2 separate regions of the Homo sapiens genome follow, and region 1 is linked to region 2. The links come from fine-mapping of genetic effects on gene expression. A gene starts in region 2. The other region holds a variant in brackets. All regions are shown on one strand. Distances are between the middles of the regions. Region 1 has its middle 35 kb from the start of ARL4A. Region 2 holds the start of ARL4A (ARF like GTPase 4A).

Evidence for each region. PIP is the estimated chance that this variant, and not a neighbour inherited with it, causes the effect.
Region 1: its variant is fine-mapped to the expression of ARL4A in monocytes after R848 (Quach 2016, PIP 0.95).

What each region holds. Positions count from the first base shown.
Region 1 is chr7:12,717,333-12,728,110 of GRCh38, forward strand. No RefSeq gene overlaps it. Among named protein-coding and RNA genes, the nearest start is that of ARL4A, 35 kb to the left of the region's middle. RefSeq lists a cis regulatory region at 5,383-5,783 and an enhancer at 5,452-5,746. The variant TCTC/T (reference allele first, on the strand shown) is at 4,266.
Region 2 is chr7:12,682,981-12,693,758 of GRCh38, forward strand. ARL4A (ARF like GTPase 4A) reads left to right here and starts at 4,653. Exons shown (of 2, transcript NM_005738.5): 1 at 4,653-4,748; 2 at 5,186-7,978. The coding sequence starts at 5,275. The coding sequence ends at 5,877. It also overlaps the pseudogene LOC100505995. RefSeq lists silencers at 3,688-3,967, 4,168-4,217 and an enhancer at 4,162-4,698.

The DNA.
Region 1 (10,778 bases), 34 kb after region 2:
ACATTCATGATGACATTTCTTTTTAGAATCTCACACCTAGACTAATCTACACCTACCAATTTTAGTTATTACAAAAAACTGTTGTAAAACAACCTGCTCCTACCCTTTCGTTTGTTTGTTTTCTTCTTTTTCTTTTTGATATGGGGTCTCGCTTTGTCACCCCGTACCAGGCTGGAGTGCCATGGTACAATCATAGCTCACTGAAAACTCAAACTCTGTGGCTCAAGTGATCCTCCTGCCTCAGCCTTCCAAGTAACTAGATCTATAAGCACGCACCACCACACCTGGCTACCCAGCTAATATATGTGTGTGTATAGATGGATGTATCTTTTTTGTAAATATATTTTGTCTGTTTGTAGAGACAGCTGTATAGACAGCTAATATATGTGTGTGTATAGATGGATGTATCTTTTTTGTAAATATATTTTGTCTGTTTGTAGAGATAGCTGTATAGACAGCTAATATATGTGTGTGTATAGATGGATGTATCTTTTTTGTAAATATATTTTGTCTGTTTGTAGAGCCTGTTTGTAAAACAGGAAGGGGGGTTCATCAGCCAATGTGTGTGCACGTCCACACAGACACATCCACTAGGCATAAGACAGGATGTTTGTATTGCCCAGGGTGGTCTCAAAGTCCTGGCCTCAAGCAATCCTCCTGCCTTGGCCTCCCAAAATGCTGGGATTACAGGAATGAACCATTTGCCCAGCCGCTTTTTTCTTTTTCTCCCTTCCCTCCCTCCCTTCCTCCCTCCCTCCGTCCCTCTTTTCCTTTTTTCTTCCTTCCTTCTTCTTTTTTTTGAGACAGCGTCTGTCTCTGTCGCCTAGGCTGAAGTGTGCAGTTGCACAATCTCGGTTCACTGCAACCTCCACCTCCCAGGCACAACCAATCTTCCCACCTCAGCCTCCCAAGTAGCTGGAACTACAGGTGCAAGTCACCACATCCAGCTAATTTTTATATTTTTATAGAAATGGGGTTTGGCTGTTTTGCCCAAGCTGGTCTCAAACTCTTGGGCTCAAGCGATCCACCTGTCTTGGTCTCCCAAAGTTCTGGGATTACAGGCATGAGCCACTGCACCTGGCTTGAACCAATTTTTTTCTTAACTAAAGCCAATTGGGTCTGTCTGAGGCATTTAAAAAGTTTTTGACTTATATTTTTATTTTAGATATGAAACCTTAATATCAGTCAAAATCAGTATAAATAACATTCATTTGATAAGAAAAACTAAATACAAATAGTTCCAAGAAGTGTTAATATTTTTATCTTAATTGTTTTTGTAAGATTGAGCTGATTTGATCACTCCTTCTAGAAACACTACTCTCTCGGCTTCTGTGATATCACACTCAACTGATTTCCTTTCTACCTCTCTTGCTGTTCCTGCTTGTTCTCCTTTGCTAATTTTTACTTCTTTACTCAATTGCCAAATGCTACAGCATTTTGGATTTGCTTCAGTCTCTGTTCTCTATCCATTTTCTATTCATTGTTGACCTCATCCAACCCCATGAATTTAAAAACGATCTCTATGCTGATGAGTCTAAAATTTCTGTCTTCCATCCTGACATCTCCGCTGGTTTCAGATGTCTAATCCACATCTCCCTTTGTATGTTTAATTAAAATGGTTGTCACATGTATGGAAAAGGACTTTTAACTATCCTAGCCTTGTCCAACTAATTAAACCACTATTTACCTTGTTGTTCAAGCCATTTCATAGTCTTTTGTTTTTGTACCTCTCCATAGCTCTTCTCTTCTCTCTCTACAGACTAGCTTTTCTGCTGTGTATTACTTTCCTAGGGCTGGTGGCCAGGGCTGGATCCCAATTCCAGCCCCTGGCCTGGAAAAGTCACTGTGGATCAGGCTATGTCAGCTATAAATCCTGATCCTCCACAGGCAGAATAGGATAATAATCATGTTCTATGATCAGGTCTCAGGCATGGCTATGGGTGGGGCAATTTTCAGAGAAGGCAGTTGGTGATGCATGGGTTGCGCAGTCTTCCCAGTAATGTTTACTACACAGCCTTGCCAAATTTTCAGGAGTTTTTATATTCCTGACGCCCTTGACTTGCACATTCATGTAAAGAATCAGAAAGGAAAGATCATGCTTTTATCAGTCATGACTGTAGTCCAAAGACTTCTTTTTCTGCTCTATCATTTGTCTTTTTCTTACTGATTAAGAAATAACTTGGCCTATGTGATTTACCATCCCTCCTTGATATGAGACCTTTCTTCAAGATCAGTCCAGCAGGTTTTATTTTACTTTATTTTTTCCCTGAATGTGCCAGCCGAGTTTAGACAACGTGCACTTGCCAAGTAGGCCTTTTAGGGAGTAATCAAATATACTAGAAGCTATGATGACTAAGTACCCTCAAATTCAACCCGAGTCTGTTAAAATTGTCTCAACTGTAACCTTTATAATATGATCCTGAGTCACTGTGGGTGGTGGGGGTGGGGGTGGGGAGAGCACAATTATAGGAATTCCCCAAAACAGAAGAAATCTAGTGAGAGAAAAAAAAAAGAGCAAATGCTCCTAATTTTGACAATTCAATGAAAGTTTGAAGGATGATAAAGATTCACCTTTCCTTTGTATCTTCATCCATACTAAGCGCATCACAGAAGGAGAGCTGGTTTGTACAATCTATCTTTCTAAAAGAAAGTGGCATTCATGCTAAAAAATGAGGGGGAGAAGCCTCTAGCTGCATGAACTAGAATAATCTTTACTTATTTTTACTACTTTAGATTCTCAAGAGTAATTTTCAAACGGAAATCTACTGAGGGTTTTTTTTTTTTTTGGCTGGGATAGGCCTTCCTGTCTAGCAATGAAGCCATTTCCACTTAATAATTACAGGGTTGTTATGGAAATTCCCTTTTAAAAGTATTACTTTAAAAAATTGTGCAATGTTACCGCCTCCCCCCTCCCGCCGCAAGACCCTAAAAAAAACTTACATCACACCAAGAATAAATGATGTGATATTTTTTTCTGTAGGATTGCTGCCGTTAGAGAGAAATGAAAGCAATATTTTAGCAGCCTGTTGCTTCGCAGGATAAACATTGCCCTTATCATTCTTTGTGGATTGATTTTTGCCTGCTTGATGACAGAATTCTTCACATGACAGCTAAATTGTTTTGATTATTGAAAATATCACAAGACAAAATATGGTACAATCATAATTTCTTCCCTTTTCTCTCTTTAATCCAAATTATACATCAAAACCGAGAACATGGCCAGGCGTGGTGGCTCACGCCTGTAATCCTAACACTTTGGGAGGCTGAGGTGGGTGGATTGCCTGAGCTCAGGAGTTCAAGACCAGCCTGGGCAACACGGTAGTCCTCAACACCCCTCAACACAGTGAAACCCCATCTCTGCTAAACACGGTGAAACCCCATCTCTACTAAAATTAGTACAAAAAATTAGCCTGGGCGTGGCGGCATGCGCCTGTAGTCCCAGCTACTCAGGAGGCTAAGCAGGAGAATGGCTTGAACCTGGGAGGCGGAGGTCCCAGTGAACTGAGATCGCGCCATTGCACTCCAGCCTGGGTGACAGAGCTAGACTCTATCTCAAAAAAAGAAAAAAACAACCTGAGAAAAAACCAAGTCACTGGCAATGAGATTCACAAACTTATGAAAAGTAGGGAATAAAAAAACAGGATGAATCATAAAATATTTTTTGTATTAACTAGATAAAATCTATCCTTCTGAGTGATATTCCCACCTGTTTTCAAGCAAATGGATAAAAATCTCTGGTAAAATAATAGACTATGGAGAAGATTCAGGTAGGAGCTCCTGCTCTGCCTTCTTCCTTGTTTTTTCCAGTGACTATTGAAAAAAATGGGGAAGAAAAGAGACACTGATAAAGCTTCCAAATTTTCCCAGTAGGAGAGAATTATAAACTTTTCCTACAACTTTTTCGTTTTAGACAAAGAGTTTAGTGGTCAGATGAGTTTGGGGATCAATGTTGCTTACATACTCTGATTTCAGGCCTTAACTTCTTGTTAAGTTCCAGACCTATGTACCCAGCCACGTTTACAATGTGTCCTCCTGGAAGTTCTGCAGGCAATTCAAACTCCAAAACTTAACTCTCAGTGTTTGTTTCCATATCAGCTTCATTTCCTACCAGCTATCCCATTGCCCAAGTCAGAAAATTGGTATTCATGCCATGTGGCTCTCTCTCTGTCACCGCCCTCTCACCCTTGATCCAAGCCACCCAGTTCTTTTTACTTTGTGTCTTCCCCATCTCTCTGACATGCCTCCTTTTTCTCTTTCTCTCTCTC[TCTC/T]TTTTTTTTTTTTTTTTGAGATAGAGTCTTGCTCTGTCATCCAGGCTAGAGTACAGTGGTGTGATCTCGGCTCACTGCGACCTCCACCTATGGGGTACAAGGGATTCTCCTGCCTCAGCTTCTCAAGTAGCTGGAATTACAGGCGCTTACCACCATGCCTGGCTAATTTTTGTATTTTTAGTAGGGACAGGGTTTCGCCATGTTGGCCAGGTTGTTCTCAAACTCCTGACCTCAGGTGATACACCTGCCTTGGCCTCCCAAAGTGCTGGGATTACAGGTGTGAGCCACCGCGCCTGGTCTTTTTTTCTATTTTCAATCACTGGCGAGGCTCTCACTTGGTCTGCCTGTGATTACTCTCCTCCTTTTCCTCAAATTCATCCTTCACACTGTTGCCATAAATTTTCTATACAAATCCGCCCTAGACAGTCCCATGTTCGAAATACTTAGATGATTCCTCTTTAAGATAAAGTTCCTACCTTCACTTATTCCCCCTCAGATCTCCTATCTCCCTTACATGAAGCCTGTGCTTCAGAAGTTCCCTGAAGTTGATGCTCTCTCTTTCCAGCACTGCCTGCTCATACTGCTTTACTGGAACCCCTTCCCACTCTCGTATGATTGGCCAATTTCTTCTCATTCAAGGCTCAGTTGATGTGCAACCTTCCCTGACACTTCTGTATCCACCTTTCTGAGTAATGTGTTCCTCCTTTATGTTTCCTCAACATCTTGTACGTGCTCTGACACAATAGTAAAAGGCAATGTGATACTCAATAGCTGAGAAGAGCATTGCCACTGGAATCAGACAGATCTGGGCTTGAATTATGAGTCTGCCATTTACTAATATCAACCCAGAAATATAATCTCAGTAAACCTCATTTTTATCTATAAATAATACAGATAATAACAGCTATATTACAAGTGTAAGTAAACATAAGTCTATATAAGTTTTAAGTAAAATAAAATGTATACAACATAAAAATTAGTGCCTAGTATGATGTAGTTGTATCTCCCCCGTAACTGTGGGTATATCATGTTCTTTTTGGGATCCTCAGGGCCAAGAAGAGAGTTGGCTCAGAAATGCTGCTAAGATGTCAGCATTTGACACTATTGCCAACTTCCTCCTATAAATACACTCTCTTGGCTTAAATTTCTTGACACAATTCTCATCTCTGTTCTTCCTATCATTCTGGCTGCTCTTTTTTCTATATATTTTGCTGAGTATTTCTCATATACTTATCTTTTTAGAGTTCATCAGGCCCTGTCCTACTGCCTCTTTTTATCTCATTCTCTCTTTACCTCATTTGTTCAAAGATTAACTAACCAACTGCATAAGAATTACTTGCCTTCCTTTTCCTGGAAACATGCAGAGTAAGAATACTTAGTATTTGAGGGAGATGAGATCATGGATTTGCATTTTTAACAAGTTCTTTAAGTGAGTCTTCAACACACTACATTTGAAAATTGTGGCCGTAGAAATTTCTTCCTCTCCTGTATCTTCAAACACTATGCATTTGCTGAAGATTTTTAAATTTATGTCTGTGTCCCAGACTGCACTGTTGTATTCCCAACCCATATAGCCAACAGCCTCTTTGGCATTTTCCTCTGGAAGTTTCTCAGGCAAAGTGTTCAAACGTAAAATTTGTATACTTCTCTGCTAAGTATTTCTTAAACGAAGCAGCTTCTACCCAAATGCTCAAACCTAGGGACAGCCATCTCCTTCCTCTTCCCTCCCTCTGCTCTAGCACCAGAATGCGTGTAATATCTCTTGAATCTTTCCACTTCTTTCCAACCCCACTACATACCCTCTAGTGTAAGCCACAGTTTTCTCAGCCAGAATTTCTGTAATAGGCTTCTAATTCATCTTCTTAATGGTAATTAAGTATGGGCTCTGAGTCTGACTTTTAGGTTTTAAAATATCTGTTTGTCAAAACTTGTTTAACCTTAGTTTCTTCTTCTATGAGGGTGGGATAAAATAGTATCTACCTCAAAGGATTTTAAGATGAGTTACATAGGTAATTAATGTAAATCTCTTTGTAATGTATGGGACACACAAGAAGCTCACAATAAATTTTTATGAACCACTGCTACTCCCCTTCTGCCCATCAGCCACTCAGTGACAGTGATCCTTAAATATGCAAATCAAATCATCATACTTTTCTTAAAAACCCTACAATGGCTTTTTTTTTTTTTTTGAGATAGAGTTTTGCTCTTGTTGCCCAGGCTGGAGTGCGATGGCATGATCTCGGCTTACTGCAACTTCCGTCTCCCAGGTTCAAGTGATTCTCCTGCCTCAGCCTCCCGAGTAACTGGGATTACAGGCATGCACCACCATGCCCAGCTAATTTTGTATTTTTAGTAGAAACAGGGTTTCACTATGTTGGTCGGGCTTGTCTCGAACTCCTGACCTCGTGATCCACCTGCCTCGGCCTCCCAAAGTGCTGGAATTAACAGCCGTGCGCCACCGCGCCCAGCCTTTTTTTTTTTTTTTTTTTTTTTTTTTTAAGCAGTCTCCATCGCGCAGGCTGGAGTGCAGTGACGCGATCTCGGTTCACTGCAACCTCTGCCTCCTGGGTTCAAGTCATTCTTCTGCCTCAGCCTCCCGAGTAGCTTAGATTACAGGCATGCGCCACTACGCATAGCTAATTTTTGTATTTTTAGTGGAGATGGGGTTTTGCCATATTGGTCAGGCTGGTCTCAAACTCCTGACCTCAGGAGATCCACCCGGTTGGGCCACCCGAAGTGGTGGGATTACAGGCGTGAGCCACCATGCCTAGCCTTCGATGGCTTTTAATGTCTTTAAACTACAGTGGTTCCTTGGTATCCTTTGGGTAGTGGTTATAGTACCTCTCCCCTATTCCTGACACCCATGGATACCAAAATCTGCAGGTGCTTGAGTCCCTTATATAAAATGGTATAGTATTTGCATATAACCTATGCACATCCTCCTGTATAATTTCAATCATTTCTAGATTGCTAATTCAAGGTAAATGCTATATAAATAGTTGTCATACTGTATTTTAAATTTGTATTATTTTTATTGTTGTATTTTTGTTTTTAAAATTTTTCCAAATATTTTCTATCCTCATTGGTTGAATGCATGGATACAGAACCCTCAGATAAAAAGAGCCCAGTGGATTGACCTTTATATGGCTTTTGCGATCCCGTATGGTTGTTTAGCCACAGTTTAAAGTCCCACTACCATTTTTCACTACTCTTTCTTTTGATTTTTTCCCTCCAGCAATTCTGGATTTCTTTTGTTACTTGAGTGGACCATTCTCTCCTTTGCATCTAGGCCTGCATAGTATTTCATAGATTTTAGGAGAAAAAAACACTTTATTATGATGGGCTACTTCCTTTGAATTCAGTTTCTCCTTCTTACCTTTTTATACCAATTATTACAATTGTAATTTTGTTCTTTGGCCATTATTCCTATATTCCACTTTGATGGTGAGGAACATATCTGTCTTCTTCATGGTTGTTTTTCCCCAGTGCCTGGCACATAGAAGACATTTGATAATATTCATTGACTGAATGAATATGATGTTCAATGTATTAATCATTTCCCATTTCTACTTTGCATATTCTGTCTTAAATAATGATTGTATTTTCTGTAGAGTCTCACTTTGGATATTAGATGTGTACTAGGATTAAGTAAAAATAACTGAACAATGTTCTAAAAATTCTGAGATTTCTATCGGAGAAATATTTACATCTGCAAAATTTTTCCTAGAAAATAAGTTCCCAGAAATGATACATTTTTGATGTCCAATAAATAAATTATTCATTCAATAAAATTGAGTGTTCTTAATTATAAAAACATTTCTTAATCCTGTATGGTATGTTACTTCTACTTAATATGACAAAACTGCTTTCAGACATATTATTAAACTTGAAAAGGGATATTAAGTTTTATTTGGATAGAAGGACTAAATATTTTATAAAATGTATTTAATCATTGTCTGCCCTTTGTTACTTTTCAATATGATAGCCTATAAATATGTAATTGATAACTCTGTAAACTAATAGAAAATTTGAGGTCTATGGTATTGATGTTATCAAGACTCCTTAGATCATTTTAAGTTTTCTTTCTTATTCGTTTTTTTTTTTTTTTTAAGAGATGGGGTCTCCCTTTGTTGTCCAGGCAGGAGTGCAGTGATGCAATCATCACTCTCTGCAGCCTTGAACTCTTGGGCTCAAGCGATTCTCCTGCCTCAGGCGCCTGAGTAGCTTGGACTACCGGCATATGTCACCACACCCAGCAATTTCTTATTTTTTAATTGCAAAGAAAATCTTTACCTTTTTCTTTCTGACTTGAAGCAGGTCATCAGATTGTCAACAGCTGCACCTTTCCTCATTTTGATGCTTATTTACCCCCTTTATTTACCCCCATAGCTACTCCCACACAGCTGAAATAAATGGGTAATTTATTAGAACCCAGCCTCTTAATTAGTTATACACCTTTAACATTGGCTTGAATCTTGGAGGCCCATCCCAGCACCCACATTGGTTCCAAGATTTTCAGCCTAGTGTAGTGGCTATAAATAGCTCATTTCTATCTACACTTAAGTTTTGAAAGAAGGAAAGAAAGAAAGAGAGACAGAAAAAGAAAGAAAGAAAAGAAAGAGAGAAAGAAAGGTTGCTGTAGTTAGAGTCAGAAGAAGAGTTTGTTGAAGAAGTAGAATTTGTTGAAGTTGTTAATTCTGGTAATAACTGCTAACCAGCTGCTAGATAGAAAATATGAAGAGAGAAAAATCGAGCCCTAGGTCACCATTACTTCACTGTGCCTCTGACATTAGCTCTTCCCCCAGGATATACATAGTAAGTAATTATTTTATATATTTCAATTTATTGAGTGTCTAATATACGCAGCAAGCTATCTCAAATCTTCTAATTATGTATTTTTGAAATGAAGAAACTGCCTATCAGGTTAGGTTTGGTTAAATAATGTGTCCAGAGTCCCTTGTACAGTAAATTGTGGGGTCTGGTGTTTCTTCCTAACTGTAGGGACTGTTCTCTTTCCAGGGTGCCTCACTGCTTTTATCCTCAAGTGATTTACTTTAAATCATTTAAAGCAGATCAACTTTGTATCCAAGTGGCTGATTTTAAAAATGACCCATCACTTATCGTATCTGCTGCAGCTCCCCCAACCCCTCCTCAAGCCCAGGTAGCATCAGTGGACTCCTCTTTGGTTGGCTTTCTCCACTACTCCACACCTCCCTCCACCTATTGGGAAGGTGGCCTTCCTTGAAGGTATCATGTCATCGAAGTACTGCTTCCATTAAGTCATAAGTCTACTTAGAGTTGCCTTTGTTCAGAACAAAATAGTCAATTTTTGTGCACAGTATAAAACGAGAGAAGGCCTCGACCAAAACTATCTCCATAGAAATTTCATCAATAGAAATTTGCTCCTTTGGCTTTACAAGCCACTTAAAGCTGTTTAATTTGCCTGAAAGGGTTAACACTTGTTGCCACTATTTAGCTTAAACTGAACCTTTTTTTCAATAGTTTTCCTTCTACCAGTAAGCTGAAATCAGCTTTCTTGAGTAAATGTAAGTTTTAATGCAGGGTGGGGTAGGATGGAGTGAATGAGAAAGGGAAGATGGGTGGATGTGGGCTTTAAGGTATTAATGAAGTTCAGTTTTGGAGTAGAGCCCAAAGGGAGAGCAGTTCTAGAACTCATGCTAGTCTCTTGTAATAATTGGAACTTCCAGAGATAGGCAAAATCTGCTGGCTCCTCCAGAGGAGGTAACACAAAACGCAAGGAATGTGGCTATGGCTCAGTCTTGGAGATAAGATGCATCCCAGTTTTGTTAAGGCCAACTAACTACTAAACTCTGGAAAAGTGGTATTACATCCTTGTCTTCAGCCACAGGTTTTTCCCTAGTGAAAACACTTCCAAGTATATTTTGTCTCATTCATTCTAAGTCCCATCTATGTTTTGGTGAGAAATTATTAGGTTGCATGCTACAAACTCCCACACAACCTGCTTTGGGAATTTTCTTGTAAGCACCCTGGGGACTCTCATGAAAGAAAAGTGCAGCACATATAGCTGGCCTCACGCGAACTGGACATTTGTCAGGAAGTGACTCTCTGTTTTTCTCCCTCCCTAGAGCTACATGATTTTTTGTCCCAGCTTCTCCACGTGTGTCTGCTATATTCTTCGGTCTCTGGAGACTAATTTCCTATAAACATTTCCATATAGGAAGCGTAAAAGAACAAAAATTTGTGGTAGTTGTAGTTGGAGTGTTATAGGACTTGTACAGAAGCTGCGAGCTGACTGTTTTAAATTAGACCGTGTATTAATTTGGGATGGATTGTAGGGGGTTTCAGCTACCACTGACACACCATCACACGTCCCTGTGAATCTGGCCTGTCTGTGAAAATCCTGGCAGATGATTCAATGTGGCCTTTCAGTGTCTCAATTCCAAATTCCTAGACCAGAGAATAGTTGCCCAGCTTCAATCTCTCATCAGTGCTCAACCCATTATTAATATTCCCCTCCTCTTCCAGCAT
Region 2 (10,778 bases):
AGGTATCCTAAACATATACATCTATATCTATCTATACACATACACACACATACACAGGCTGTGGCAAAGGTGAGGAAGGACACGATTTCAGTATGTGCATGCTTAACTTATGTATATCATAAAAAATCAGGCTATGTAAGAGAAGAAGAATGCTACATGCATCTGATTTTTAATTTTTATTTTCATAGATTAAGGGGGTATAAGTGCAGTTGTGTTACATGGATATATTGTGTAGTGGTGAAGTCTGGGCATTTAGTGTCGCCATCACCCAAATAATGTACACTGTACCCAATAGGTAGTATTTCATTCCTCACCCTTCTCCCACCCTTTCACCTTTTGAAGTCACCAATGTCTATGATTCCACTCTACATGTCTATGTGCATCCATTGTTTAGCTTCTACTTAGAAGTCAGAACACAGGCATCAGATTTGATCTGGGTCCTGATATTTAATTCAAAAAGAGAATCAAAGTAAATTACTCAGTTGTAGTTATTTAAAAGGAGAAAACTTACCCATTTCTTATGATTAGTATTTCTTCAAAGTGTCTAATCATTAATTATCTGAAATACTTACTTAAAATACAGATCACTGGCTCCTCTCCTGATGATTCTGATTTGGGGGGGTCTGAAATAGGAGGAACCAGGAATCTATACATTTACAAGCATTAACAGGTGATTCTCATCATTAGCCAAGTTTGGAAAACCACAATTAAAGGTGAGGTTCGCAGAGGCCCTAGTGCCTCAGTACTTTTTCATGGTACCTCAGGCCAAAATAAATAGCCAACATTTCTATTTATGAAATTGATAGATCCAAACTTGATAGTTGTAGTTGTTAATATGGTCCAACAGATGTCACTGTGTTTCCCTCAAAAAGTTAAACTATCCCACAGAACCCCTAGGAATTCTGAGGCACCCCAGAGCACTATTTACAAGCTACAGGCCCTAAAGGGAATTTTTTTCTGGCATAGAATGTAAGTAAAAGCTCTGAATGGGCCTTCTATAAGATCAGGCAACAAAGTGAACCTTGTGTTCCACAAATTCCATTGCTTTTAATATCATTTGTTGCTGTTTTCATATGGTTTTTATATATAGAACAGGCACACCAAACATTTTTCTACAGAGGCAGAGAGCACATTTATTTTGTATGTGTGTGTTGTGGGGGGCATAGATGATCTTGATTGCATATTCTTTTCTTATCCATTCTCTTGCAGCCCTTTAAACTTGTAAAAACCATTCTTATCTCCTGAATTTGACCTACAGGCTGCAGTTTGCCAACCACTACTGTAGTTTTAAAACCTAGGGTATAACATTAAAGTGCAATTCAGTGAGGACGATTCTGCAAGATTGGAAGCCCTCAGTGTTTTTGTTTTCCTTTTTTCCCTTTTTGCTCCAGGGAAGACTGTGCAAGGAACACTGGAAGGACTTAGAGATTTCAAAACTACTGTAAACAGAGGGTGGCCACAGAATTTTCTTGCTCTAAATTCTTGACTTAAGGAGAATCTGCAAGTTATCCCAGTTTAATAAAGAATCCCTATTGAATTTCCAATAAAAGGAAATAGGTTATTGCACTAAGCCCTTTATCAATTATTAGCTGATTATGTGAATGGCTAATGAGATTTCACAATTATAACTAATCAGGCAATCCTTAGTTTATAATAGATTCATGTTTATAGAATATGCCATTTGATATTTCTAGCTCTTATTCCCAAAATTAGTGTGGCTGTCTTGAGATTATGCATTGTGCTCAGAACTTAGGTTTTTACGTCGTTTTTTGTTTTTGTTTTTGTTGTTTTTGAGACGGAGTTTCGCTCTTGTTGCCCAGGCTGGAGTGCAATGCCGCTATCTCGGCTCGGCAACCTCCGCCTCCCGGGCTCGAGCGATTCTCCTGCTTCAGTCTCCTGAGTAGCTGTGATTACAGGCGCCCGCCACCACGCCTGGCTAATTTTTTGTGTTTTTCGTAGAGATGGGGTTTCCCCACGTTGGCCAGGTTGGTCTCGACTTTTTAAAGAATCCGGTATGACAAGTATGCATGTTCCTGTGCTAGTCATAAAAGAAATAAATATCACTGGCAATAGCGGTCTTGAGAAAAACTAGGATATTTCTTGAGGAAACTCCAATCCATATTTAAAAAGAAAAAAAGCACACTTTTAAAAAAGTGTACCATATAGGTTCTTCCAAGTTACAGTCTTACAGCCTTCACCAAAAAGATGTTTGTCGATTAAAGCTTTCCTACAACTTCAAGTCATTACTTCTTTTGCAGGTTGTCATAAGCACCCTGAAATTACCGCTGAAAACATTTTATAAATTTAGTCATCCATAGAGACTCCAATATTCCACAAGGGCAGGGACAGTGTATTTTGCTCACCATTTTATCCCCAAGCACACAGAATTGTGTCTACTGCCTATTAGGTGTTCAATAAATATTTGTGAACTTATTGATCAAAGACAAAATTTAGTCAGAATCATCCAATGAAAAGCATTTTGCATTTGATGACTAGTAGACTTAGATGAACAGTTCCAGGACCACCACTAATTTTCCTTGGGTCATTAGAAACATCCCTTTGGGGCTGCGGAGAGAAAATCCAATCTGGCCGCTGCCCCACAGCCCCTTTCTGTTCTGCGCGTTTGCCTCGCCGTTCTGATGGAGGAGGAGGTGGAGGTGGAGGAGCAGCAGCGATTTTCTTAGCCATTTTCTTACCAACAGAGGCCAAAGGAGGCAGCAGTGGACTACACTGTGGGTTGTCTTTGCGAGGAAGTGGCATTGGGCAGAGATGCAGTTCAGCAAACTTATCATTGCAGCAATTTCGGAGCTGACTTTTCGACAGTGCAAGATCTAGAAATGTGTGCAAGACATGCGAAAACCACCACCATTAACACTGAAGATGTGAAGCTCTTAGCCAGAAGGAGTAATTCACCGCTAAAATACATTCAGACAAAAGTGAAGAGCTTGCGCAGATTAACCTAGAACGAAAGGCACAGAAGACAAAGAAGAGGATGGAAACAAAAATGCAAGGGAGCCAGCAGAGGCTGGAGTACAGGAAAGTTAAGAATTAAACTCTCCCGCTGCTTGGAAAATGCAGCTTTCTGCAGGTAGAGCCACCTAGTATGTATATGGCCACAAAGGGAATTTTGAAGGGATAAATAGAGATTAAAAAAAAAAAAAAGGCTAGATGGCTTTTTGTGTTGTATTTTCCAAGTCGTTAACTGCAAACGCTAGTTTTAAAGAGAACTGGACACTCAATCAAAATACTCCTGTCTCACTCCAGCACATACAAATGGTGTAGTTGAATGGTATATTGGAAATTATATCTATTGCAATTAAAATTGTGTGAGCAATTTGAAAGAAAAGAAAAAAAGAAACATCCCTTTCATCTTTCAGAGTGTATTTCCTTATGTGTCAAACTGGAATATTTCTATCTGTGGCCAGTTCCCCGGGATGCTGCTAGAAACACGTGAGACAGCGCGTTCATTTGCTCTACAAAAAGCGAATGAAGGCGCAGTTACCAGGCCAGTCAACCCAGGCTGTTTAAGGTCAACTACTGGGGGACTTCCACGTCACCTCGATATATACGTAACGCGTGTGTGCCGTAACCCGTGAACTATGGAATCCCTAACCGCGAATCACGTGGCTGCTGCCCCGCGGACGCCCTAGACGACGTGAGGGAAGGCGGTGCCGGGCGGGGCCTGTGCCAGGCTGGCGGGCCGCCGCAGACAGAGCTACCCGGAGCAACCGTTCAGGGGTGAGGCCGGAAGTCCCATCCGACCTCGCGGGCAGCCAGCGCTAGGCCGATTCGAACTCGACCTTGTTTTGGCGTTGCTAGGAGACGCGGCTCCTGCGCGCCCCCTACAGGCCGGCGCCCGGGCGGCGCGCGGGCAGGGGGCGGGGACTGTCGCGTGGAGCTGCCGGGCGAGCACCGTTAGGGCAGCCTGGCGCGCGGCGCCCGCCAGGCGCCCAGTCCTCTGCCATCGCCCACGCCTCCCTGGTGCCAGGGAACAGGTATCAGCGCGCCTCCCCAGCGGCTGGGAGAGACGCTGAATGAAGAAGAGGGAAGGACGGTTAGTCAGGTGAGCCGCGGCGGGGTGGGCGGCCGGGGCGGCCACGCCCTGCCGAGGGAGAAGAGCCGGTCGTGTGCGGAGGGACAGGGTGAAGGGATCCCACTTCGGGGAGGATGGGCTTATCCCGGCGGGCGCGCCAGGTGGGATCTCTAGCGCCTCAGGGGCCCGCGCGGCAACAGCCGGCACCCTCGGGCCCGCGGACAAAGGGTTAACGCGTTGGCAGTGACTGCGGGCCCCGGATGTGAGAGCCTTGGCTTGACGCCCTGGCTGCGCTGCAGGTGCGCCGGGCCGAACGGAGCCGGCAGCCTGGCGGCGACCTGACCGCCCGAGGCTCCCCTTCACCTGCAGCGGCTGCTCGGCTCCCTCTGGGAACGCCGCCTTTTCTAACTTAAGGGCAACAGGTGGTGCCGGTGGACCGAGAGAGAGCTCAGCTCCGCCGCGCTGGGAGCGGCAGTTACCCTCACCAATTAGGGAGCGGGGGCGGGAGTTGCATGGCTTCCCTGATGCGGGTGACCAATGGGATTTGGGATCATGAGTGGACCGGGAGGAGTGGGCGTGGTCGGAGTCTGAGTCCAAGGTTTCTCGTGCGGCAACTGCCAGAGCTGCTTGGAGAGCTAAGCTGGAAGGGTGCTTATCCCTGCGTAGAAACGCCTGCCAATGCTTTCTCATTTGGACCCAGACTCCAGATCGGGAGGTGAGAACGTTGTTATTTTGCAAGGGGTAGGAGGTAATAGTGATCTTGGGTATGCTGTTAAGCATGTGGAATTAGATTCCGAAGATAGGACTATCTGCTATGAGTTTTCTGCCAGATAGGCACTTTGTGGTTACGGCCACTTAGACCAGATACTGGTGACTGGGTTCTTTCCAGAATGAGGTCTTTGAGGTTTGGGGACCCAGGAGAAAAACGTACATATTACTGCAATTTAAGTAAACCAGATAATTTCAATCACTGTTATTCCATCGTTTGTCTTGGACTGTGTGTGTTTTCATGTACGTTTCATATCTCGTCTGGTTTGTTTAGCGCAGCAAGTTATAGTAAGTTCTTCGTGTTGTTTATTTTAGCAAAGTAGAGCAAACCTGTTTTAATGTATTATTTCGGGAGAATAACTTATTCCTTCTTCCGTCTCCCAGCAGTCTTATAGCTGGATCAGCTACCAAGAGAAGTTGTAAACCAAGAAGAGAAAAGCATTTCAATTTGGGACATTTATTTGCACCTGGAAATGGGGAATGGGCTGTCAGACCAGACTTCTATCCTGTCCAACCTGCCTTCATTTCAGTCTTTCCACATTGTTATTCTGGGTTTGGACTGTGCTGGAAAGACAACTGTCTTATACAGGCTGCAGTTCAATGAATTTGTAAATACCGTACCTACCAAAGGATTTAACACTGAGAAAATTAAGGTAACCTTGGGAAATTCTAAAACAGTCACTTTTCACTTCTGGGATGTAGGTGGTCAGGAGAAATTAAGGCCACTGTGGAAGTCATATACCAGATGCACAGATGGCATTGTATTTGTTGTGGACTCTGTTGATGTCGAAAGGATGGAAGAAGCCAAAACTGAACTTCACAAAATAACTAGGATATCAGAAAATCAGGGAGTCCCTGTACTTATAGTTGCTAACAAACAAGATTTGAGGAACTCATTGTCACTTTCAGAAATTGAGAAATTGTTAGCAATGGGTGAACTGAGCTCATCAACTCCTTGGCATTTGCAGCCTACCTGTGCAATCATAGGAGATGGCCTAAAGGAAGGACTTGAGAAACTACATGATATGATCATTAAAAGAAGAAAAATGTTGCGGCAACAGAAAAAGAAAAGATGAATATCAATACCTATTATATCTGTGTGGAGTAGGTTTTCTCTGGTCTGATTTTGACAAATAGAAGAGTGTCTACAGCGTGGTTTGCCTGTCTGCCCTCCTGGATGCTATTAAAGCTTTGTTTTGTTGAACAATCAGATGCCCAACTCTGTTGCCTTGTGGAAGATGAGTAAATGCAGTGCTTCTTAAAGTGGTCTCTTCTCCCTACCCCACAAATCTTTTGGTACTACCATTTGGGGAAGCCAAGCAAGGATAGTAAATTGACCAGAACACAGTTGTGGGAATTTGGTCTGAAGTTAGTGAAATAAAACTTTAAAGAGTGTCTGCCTAGTGTTTTGTGCTTACATCTTTCGGGGGGAAGCCTTTGCAAGAAAATTGCATACAAGGCTTTGTAACGATCAAGTGCTAATCGATGGAAATGTTAAGGTAGATTAACATATATGCAGTTATATTGATCACATTGGTCCAACCAGTCCTTTTTTGAAGTAAGGGACAAGGAGTAAGTATTTTCTTTTTTAAGTTTCTGCCAAATGATTTTTGACGCTTTCTGGAATCAAGTAATTTAATAGTATAGCTTAATTCTAGACAATGTTTAAGTTGGTCTACCTTTATTAAAAATAAGATATTTGGGGTATATTCAAGTGCATGGATTAGTTTTCCTGACAAAGCATGTTTTGGTGTGTAGTCTTACTTTTTAGAAATAGCTATGCATCGTTCTACACAGGTTTAAAACAACTTTTTTGGGGATTTAGGGCTATTATAGGAATAGTTTGTTGTCAGAAGCACTTTCACTTGAAGAACCTAAAATGATTGACTCATTCATAGTAAATATGGGCATGTAAACTAATAAATATGCACTGGATACATATATGGATTTATGAAGAAGGCGATTTAGTCAAGAGGATGTAATTAAAATATGTGGTCTCTAAAATATTCCAGTTACAAGATATTTGTTTTATTAATATTTGCTGGCTAAAAACAAATGTGGTTTTTATATATTTTTGTAGTGTGTTGAGAAGAGCAAAAGCTTTATAAATATACCTGATGCGCTGTAGAATGAAAATGTAAAAGATAACCTGTATGTGTTCCGAGCTTTAATTTTTTGTTTACAAATTGAACAGTGTTACATGGGCTGTCCAGTCCTGATTATAGAGAGGAAGAAATGGTAACAGTATGGCAGATAAGAATTACAATTATAGAAAATGAGGGGAAAATAACAAACCTGTTTTATGAAAATTCACTGGTGCTGTTTACATTGGAATAAAAAGCTCTATAAGGAGGAAAGGCCTTTATCTAATTCTTATCTACAGACACTTACTTCCAGTGACCATATTTTACTAAATCAGCTTATTTTTTATGTCTAAAGCAACAGCTGTTCTGAAAAATCACCAAAAGAAATGCACTTTGCTAGCAGGATTTGTTTTGGCTTTGGGTTTTGTTTTTTTGTTTTTTTTTTTTTTCAGTGGCATAACAGTTTTTGGAACCTTGATTCTTGTGTCACACAAAATGAATGAAGTAGCTTGATGTGGAGCCTTCATATGTTAAATATTCCTGCACTAGTGATGGTCACTTAGAATGTTTATAGAAATGTGGATAATAACTACCAATAAACTACTTGAGGCACTAGGAGAACAGTATTTGACTTTGAATTTTAATGTATTTCCACTTTTGCTGAAGCTTTTAATCAGATGTGTAAAAACAATTGACCAGCTAGGCTATTTAGTCCCATAGTAGTTCAGATCTGCTTAGATGTGACAGGCATTGAAGGCTGTTTTTTTTTTTTTCTCCCTTCACTGATACTGAAATCATGGTATCTGCTGCAAACATGAGTAGATCCATGATGGATTAATAAAGCTTGCTGAAAAAAAAAATCTGTGTATCAATTAGATTTACCAGTTTGCCTGTACTTTCTGTCTACCTACTATGTAAAATAGTGCTGTTTTTAAGTATTTCAAAAGCTTGTGTGTTGACCCTTTGTAGCCTAAGTACGTAAACAAATTAATGTTATCTAAGTTTTTCATATTTCATGGACAACAAAAGAGAAAATGGTATGAACACTGTACAAACTTTGATTTATAAAAGACAATTTCAGCTATAAAACCCATCCTAAGATTTTCTAGCTTGCTAAGTTCAAGTTCCCTACCGCCTATTCTAGTTATTAACACTGTAGTATAATGAGTCTTTAAATTCTGAAGAGTTTAGACTATGCTTTCATATCTAGTTTCTTCTTATGGCGCACCTTTTCTAGTGCATAGTTCTAAAATATTTTCTTGTATTTGAAGTTACTTGGTTTAATACAAAATATTAAGGACTGCTCAACTGAATCCAAGTTAATATCAAAGAACAAAGTGTAAGAAAAATAAAACCTTTTGATAGTTAAAGATAATTTTTAAAATGTGCAGAGTTCTTAAAATGGTTTATAAATGGTATTCTTAAACCATCAGAAGTTTACTAAGACTTAATCATGGAAAAATGAACTAAATCTTTATAGGGAGACAAAAAAATGAAGTTATTAATGTAAATATATATATAATATATAAGAATAATTACTGGTCTGTAAATGAGTGATGGTTTATCAACAGAGGGAAAGGCATAGACTTTGTTTGTACAAGGCATTTTTTTTTTTTTTTTGAGACAGAGTCTTGCTCTCTTGCCCAGGCTGTAGTGCGGTGGCACAATCTCAGCTTACTACAACCTCTGCCTCCTGTATTCAAGTGATTCTCCTGTCTTAGCTTCCCAAGCAGCTGAGATTACAGGCACACCACCATGCCCAGCTAATTTTTATTTTTAGTAGAGATGGGGTTTCGCCATGTTGGCCAGGCTGTTCTTGAACTCCTGACCTCAGGTGATCCACCCGCCTCAGCCTCCCAAAGTGCTGGGATTACAGAAAGTAGCCACCATGCCCAGCCTGTACAAGACATTTGATGCAAGGATTGTTCCATTAATAATTCATGGTGACCTTGAAGGAAATCTTTGGTTTTTCAAGATTCTATTTAATACAACAATTTCCTCTGTAATGTAAACAATGATTTCATCAGCGATAATAAAGATGCAAAAAAAGTTTTATCAAACTTTATATGATGTAAAAACTCAGCATTCAGCTGATGCAATTGAGAATCTTGAGTACACCATCATTTGAAGCTGGAATTTTACCTTTAAGGTTTAAATTTGGCGGAACATTCTGGAAATGTAAAATCATAATGTTAATATTAAAATCTATGAAGATCAGAAGTAATAGTCTCAACAAACCATAGCCAGAGTATGTATTCAATTCTGTGCATGCACATTAAAAATATGGGAATACCTGTACAGGAAGCTAGTTTAGGAGGATGTTAAATGTACTGGCTAAAAACATGAGCTTTGGAGTCAGATCAGTGTTCAAATCCTGGCTCTCCCGTTATTACACATGAACCTTTAGCAAATTCCTTGAAACTTATGATGAGAATGCCCTCCTGGTTAAATGAAGACTGTTTCATAGAATTTTGAGAGTGTTGAAATAACATGTACAAACTTTCACATATTGCCAAGCATTTGATAAAAACTGACCTACTATTGTTAACCAGTAGGAATCAATATGTTTATTATTTCATCTGGGGCAATTTACTTGCAGCCTTAGTTTCTTAATTTGTAAAGTGTGGGTTATATATATCTACCACTGGGGTATAACTGATTAAAAGGATTAAATCAAGCAATGATATTTAGCAGAGTAACTGACACTTTAGTAAGCATTCAATTGATAGTTATTAATAGCCAGAATACCTTATGATCAACGTATTTAAAGAAAATACTTGTTTTGGCAGGGGAATATAACATAGTGAGCTCATACATGTCACAAAATGGCAACTTGGTGGAACTTAGTGAAAGTCTAAATATGCTGAACTCCCTTGAAATATGGATCATTTCAAGGGATCATATGGTACTTAGGTTTCTAAAGTACCAATTTATTGTAACACAATATTATCTTACCTTTCCCTGTAAGAGATAAAATTTAATTTAAAATCTCGGTTATTTTCTGGTGTAGGCATATATCAAAATACAATACCTCACTTTTCAGACATTAAAATTTGAAACTATATATTATGGTTCTTCAAAATGCCTCAAGATTGTTATCTATAATTCACAAATTTGATCGAATGATAAGATCAAATTTGCAGTATCTGTGGGCACATCTGGTTGATGATGGTGGTTGTGTTTGTGGGTGATTATGTGTGCTGTGTTATTTTCCAGTTACTTTCAGTCTTTGGTCTTGTTTTATGTCTCCTGTTTATGTTGCACTGAAGTGGAGATTACCTGTATTAGTGGTTGAAGAGAGATGTTGAAGTTGATTCATTTCAGTGAAGGTCTACCTTTAGATAAAATCTTAACTTTTTGTTATGACAGATTTCAATCTTATACAGAAGTAGAATAATATAACAAACACCCAAGTATCTGTCATCTAGTTTCATTAATTATCAACTCAGGGCCAATCTGGTTTCCTCTATACTTCCATTCACTTCCTTCCATGCCACCTTCCTTTTTCCTCCACTTCTAGATTATTTTGAAGTGAGTTCTGGAAATTACATTTCATTTATAAATAGTGGTATATGTGTCTAAAAGATAATCACTTAAAAAAATTTCACTCACATGTAAAAAAAATATGCTTCTTCAAAATAACCAAATATCCATCCAGTGTTTAGATTTCTATTATTATTATTATTTGAGACAGAGTCTTGCTCTTTTCACCCAAGCTGGAGTGCAATGGCATGATCTCAGTTAACTGCAACCTCAGTCTCCTGGGTTCATGCCATTCTCTTGCCTCAGTCTCCCCAGTATCTAGGATTACAGACACTTGCCACCATGCAGGGCTAATTTTTGTGTTTTTAGTAGATACGAGGTTTCACCATGTTGGCCAGGCTGGTCTCGAA